2 separate regions of the Homo sapiens genome follow, and region 1 is linked to region 2. The links come from fine-mapping of genetic effects on gene expression. A gene starts in region 2. The other region holds a variant in brackets. All regions are shown on one strand. Distances are from middle to middle.

The links.
Region 1: its variant is fine-mapped to the expression of SGCG in adrenal gland (GTEx, PIP 0.95).

Annotation. Positions count from the first base shown.
Region 1 is chr13:23,154,378-23,157,415 of GRCh38, reverse strand. All of the region lies in intron 1 of LOC124903134 (a long non-coding RNA gene), which reads left to right. Among named protein-coding and RNA genes, the nearest start is that of LINC00362, 15 kb to the left of the region's middle. The variant A/G (reference allele first, on the strand shown) is at 1,270.
Region 2 is chr13:23,179,836-23,182,335 of GRCh38, reverse strand. It overlaps SGCG (sarcoglycan gamma), which reads right to left and starts at 1,357. Exons shown (of 8, transcript NM_000231.3): 1 at 1,261-1,357.

The DNA.
Region 1 (3,038 bases), 25 kb after region 2:
TTTTTTTTTTTTTGAGACGGAGTCTCACTCTGTCGCCCAGGCTGGAGTGCAGTGGCGCGATCTTGGCTCACTGCAAGCTCTGCCTCCTGGGTTCACGCCATTCTCCTGCCGCAGCCTCTGATGATGTAATTTTTAAATTTCAATAGTTATGTGGATGAATTGTAGAGTGGTGAAGTCAGAGGTTTTAGTGCACCCATCACCGAGCCGTATACATTGTACACAATATGTAGTTTTTTATCCCTTGCCCATTTTCTGGCTTCTGAGTCTCCAATGTCCATTCTACCACTCTGCATGCCTTTGTGCACCCATAGCTTAGCTCCCACTTATGAGTGAGAATATACGGTATTTGCTTTTTCATTCCTGAGTGATTTCACTTAAAATAATGGCCTCCAGCTCCATCCAAGTTGCTGCAAAAGACATTTTATTCTTTTTTGTGGATGAGTAGTATTCCATGGCATATATGTACCACATTTTCTTTATCCACTCATCAGTTGATGGGTACTTATGTTAGTTCCATATCTTTGCAATTGTGAATTGTGCTGCAATAAGCATATGCGTGCAAGTGTCTCTTTGATATGGTGACTTCTTTTCCTTTGGAGTAGATACCTAGTAATGGGATTGCTGGATTGAATGGTAGATCTACTTTTAGTTCTTTGAGAAATCACCATACTGTTTTCCAAAGAGGTTACAATAATTTACATTCCCACCAGCAGTGTATAAGCGTTCCCTTTTCACTACATCCACACCAACATCTGTTGCTTTTTGAGTTTTAATAATACCTACGCTGGCTGTGGTAAGGTGGTATTTCATTGTGGTTGTAATTTGCAATTCCCTGATGATTAGTGATGTTGAGCATTTTTTCGTGTTTTTGGCCATTTGTACATTTTTCTTTTGAGAAATGTCTATTCATGTCATTTTCCCACTTTTACATGGGTTTTTTTTTTTTTTTTTTTAGACGGCATTCTCGCTCTTTCGCCCAGGCTGGAGTGCAGTGGCGCTATTTCGGCTCACTGCAAGCTCCGCCTCCCGGGTTCACGCCATTCTCCAGCCTCAGCCTCACGAGTAGCTGGGACTACAGGCGCCCGCCACCGCCCCCAGCTAATTTTTTGTATTTTTAGTAGAGACGGGGTTTCACCGTGTTAGCCGGGATGATCTCGATCTCCTGACCTCGTGATCTGCCTGCCTCGGCCTCCCAAAGTGCTGGGATTACAGGCGTGAGCCACCGCACCTGGCCTTTTTTTTCCTTTTTGATTAGTTTCAGTTCCTCAT[A/G]GATTCTGGACTAATATCCTTTGTCAGTTGCATAATTTGCAAATATTTTCTCCCACTTTGTGGGTTGTGTGTTTACTCTGATGATTATTTCTTTTGTGGTGCAGAACCTTTTTACTTTAATTAGGCCCATGTATTTATTTTTGGTTTTGCTGCATTTGCTTTTAGGGTATTAGTCATAAATTCTTTCCCTAGAGCCATGTCCAGAAGAGTTTTTTCCTGAGTTTTCTTCTAGAATTGTAATGGTTTCAGGTCTTAGATTTAAGTCTTTGATCCACCTTGAGTTGATTTTTGTAGTTGGTGAAAGAGATCCAGTTTCATTCTTCCACATGTGGCTATCCAGTTTTCCCAACACCATTTATTGAATATGGTATGCCGTCCCCAATTTATGTTTTTGTATGCTTTGTTGAATAATAGTTTGTTATAAATATTTGGTTTTATTCTGTGATTTCTGTTTTCTTTTTTTGATGGAGCCTCATTCAGTCCAGGCTGGAGTGCAGTGGCGTATTCTCGGCTCACTGCAAGCTCCGCCTCCCGGGTTCACACCACTCTCCTGCCTCAGCCGAGTAGCTGGGACTACAGGCACCTGCTACCACACCCGGCTAATTTTTTGTATTTTTTAATAGAGACGGGGTTTCACCAAGTTAGCCAGGATGGTCTCGATCTGACTTCGTGATCCTCCCGCCTTGGCCTCCCAAAGTGCTGGTATTACAGGCGTGAGCCACCGCGCCTGGCCTGTTTCTGTGATTTCTGTTCTGGTCCATTGGTATATGTATCTACTTTTATATCAGTACCATGCTGTTTTGGTTACTGAAAATTGTTGTTGTTGTTTTTTAAAACTAACTAAAGCCTCTGGAATCATCCTAAGGGCATACAGCAAATGGAGAAATATTTATTTCTAAAATCTAACAAATATTGGTAAAAACAGTGTGAGTTTGTGGCATTTGAACCACTACCCACTCAGTCCCCACCCCCAACTCAGTGTGATGGAAGCTGTACTCTTGGTAGGTGTGGCCAAGAAGATAGACTCCCTCTACCCCAGTTACCAGTCCAGGATTTTGTTTTTTTCCAGAGGTGGTTGGCCTCCATCATTCTCACACCTAGTCCACCAAAGCATGTATGTAAACTCCATTCTAGTCAAGTGTGGATGAAAGGACTGGGGCTTTACCCAGCCACCTGCTACCCAGCCACCACCGTAAGGTAGAAGTTCTATTCAAATTGTGTCAGGTGAAGAATACTGGACAACTACTACCCCTGCCTTAGCCCACACATGGGGCGGAGGTTCCATATTGGGAGAGGCAAGCTGAAAAGACCAAGGGCTACTAACCCCACTCAGTGTCCTGCTCACGAAGCAGGGATGTCACTCTGAGAGAAGCAGCCTGTTGTCCCCACCCCCAGCTCTGGAGCAGTGGAACAAAGTTTCTTCCTAGGGCGAGAGGGAGGATTTAAGAATAGAGGACTTCATAGCTGATTTTATTTGAAACAGAATGGGGGAGAAGTTCACTATGAAAAACAATGGAGATCTTGGCAGTAAGCAATTAAGAGAAGACTGCTAGCTTTATGATAACAAAAAGCTAAATGGTAGACCAGCTAGAAAATTAAGAGACCATCAGGAAAAAAGTCGCAAAAAAGAGTCCTCCTAGACTTGTAGGAGGTCTCAAAGACTACCCATGAAAAGGGGACTGGGCTGTAATTAAATTAAATTATGGAACAGTTTATGCTCCAGATGTTGTCAAAAATATTAGAGGAATCAGCTAACAATTAGTAAAGGC
Region 2 (2,500 bases):
TGAGAAGACACAAGCGCTGTGATGAGCCACAGATTAGGGAGTGGAGGGAGATCCTCAGGCCCTATAAGTTATGCAAAACTGAACACATTGGGAACCCACTATAATTTACAACTATCATTTAATTTTTAATGCAATTTAATAACAACTTAGTTTAATGACTAGCAAGTACATTTTTTAAAGGACAATATGGAACAATTTCATTTTCCGCATTTTAACTGCAAGCTTAGCTGATATCTTTTGGACACCTGAATTTGTTAGTCTTTGGAATGCTATATCTAACTACATTGAAATGCTACTTTTCATTTGTCTTTGAAAGACAATCTGAAATGAATCCTAGAACCTATAAAACGAACCCCAACTTGTAGCATTACTTTTTAAATTCCACAAAGGTGCCTTTTTGTACCTACAAAATGTTTGCAAGAAAATAAGCAAAAAACAAACGGTGTATTCCGTAGTTCGTTTTTGTACTGGTCTGCTGGCAAATCTTTCAGTCAGCTGAGTTATATTTTTCCGTATTATTTTTTTCTAATCCTTCCTTTAAAAAAATTGTGTTTGCTAGTTGTCATGTATTAATTTAGAAAACGCAAAGAAAGAACTCATAACTTCAGTAAGCTGAAGCATTAGCACATGTGTACTTTTACCCCACTTATGTTTATTTTTTCATACATATTTTGAGCAGTATTTTATATTTTCCAGATTTAGGGAAAGAAACATTCTTCCCTTTTCACTCCAAAAATAGTGAAGGAGTCAGGTTGCTATTTTGCTCTTGTTTTGTTTATTTCCAACTTATAAAACCACTGGACTTTTGTTGTCATTCATTTTAGTTTATTTCTTAGTGTCTATAACAAAACTATCAAGAAAATCTAAAGCAAATGTAATTCTACCACTAAAGTTTAAGAGCAGAATTAGAAGTAGGTGATCTTAAAGATAATACTTTGTTTAAATTAACTACAGGATCCAATTCAATGCCCAATAATACAGAAATGCTACCTTTGGCATTCTACAAATTAAAAATGTTAGAAATATAGGATTATGCTAAAAATATGTAGCATATTTGTAGTCAGAATAACTTAGTTGAAATGAGAATTTCATTGATACTTGATATGTCATTATGTTGTGATACACCAATTTATTCAACATTATTTTAAATTTATTATTATGCCACCAAAGAAGAAAGAATATTAAGAAACCTCTTAAGCGTTTGGTTTTTAGGTAGTACTTTGTACTGATATAAAATCTAAGTTAAAACTGAGCACTTACCTTAGATATTAAGAAAAGCACACTGGCGAATGAACTACAGCTGGCCCGAGCTCTACCACAGACAGAATGTTTCAAACTTTTCTATGACTTACAGAATGAGAGCAAAGGATGAAGCTTCAGCAACTGTCCCTGGAGAAAGGGCTCTCACGAGTTTCGCCCTGTCTCATGTTTCATCCCCTCACATTAGCAACAGACGTGTCTAATTTTACTCAGTGACATAAACAGTTCATACCACACTTAAAATTTTTTGGGCACCAATTCCAGGACACAGCTCTTCGCATGCCAAAAACAAACCAAAACAAACAAACAAACAAGAAACCAAACTCTTCTTCTTACAAAACCAACTTTCCAACATTTAAACCCTAAAGCATGATAGTTTAATGTAATTATAACTTTCTTAAAAAAACTTTACCTCAAACAAACAGCAGAAAACTTCTAAGACTGGTTTCCATTAGAAACTAATGTTGATAAAATTTTACGAAAAATCTCTTCAAATTAACATGCAAGTTAGAACTTGTGACTATTACCTATATACTAGTCTCATCCAAATGAACGGCATATTACCATGTAACAGTGACTCTTTAAAAATCACTTTCCCTAAGCCTCTTTAAGTGAAAAACTTTTAACATCTGAGGAGAAAATCTTAAACAAAGATCACCATAATAGAAGGTAAACAAACTCTGCATGTTAAAATTATGACAGTTCTTTTCTAGTAAACTAACATTTCTATTGTGTTTAACAAATTATGTGAATGTAACAAATGTGACCTTAAATTGTCTTTATGTTTATTTAAGAGTAATTAGGTCATTCCATTTTATAAGGTGTAAAGACAACAGAATAAATATCGAACTTCTGAATAATTTTAATATTTTATTTTGCATTATTTTTATGTGACCTGGTTTGCAGCAGGATTAAAACTTACTAAATTATATACTTCATATTTGCATTTTAGTACTAAACCTTGAATATAAGAAGCAGTGCCTTAGTATACATGCACACAGAGATGGGAACAATCAGATACTGGGGCCTGCTTGAGGAAGGAGGGAGGGAGAAAGGTGGGGTTCGGAAAACTGTCTATCGGGTACTGGGCTTACTACCTGGGCGATGAAATTATTTGTACATCAAATCCTGGTGATATGCAATTTATCTGTGTAACAAACCTGCACATGTACCCCTCGAACCTGAAATAAAAAATGAAGAAAAAAAGGAGCAATGCAATAACAATGCATATGCTTCATTC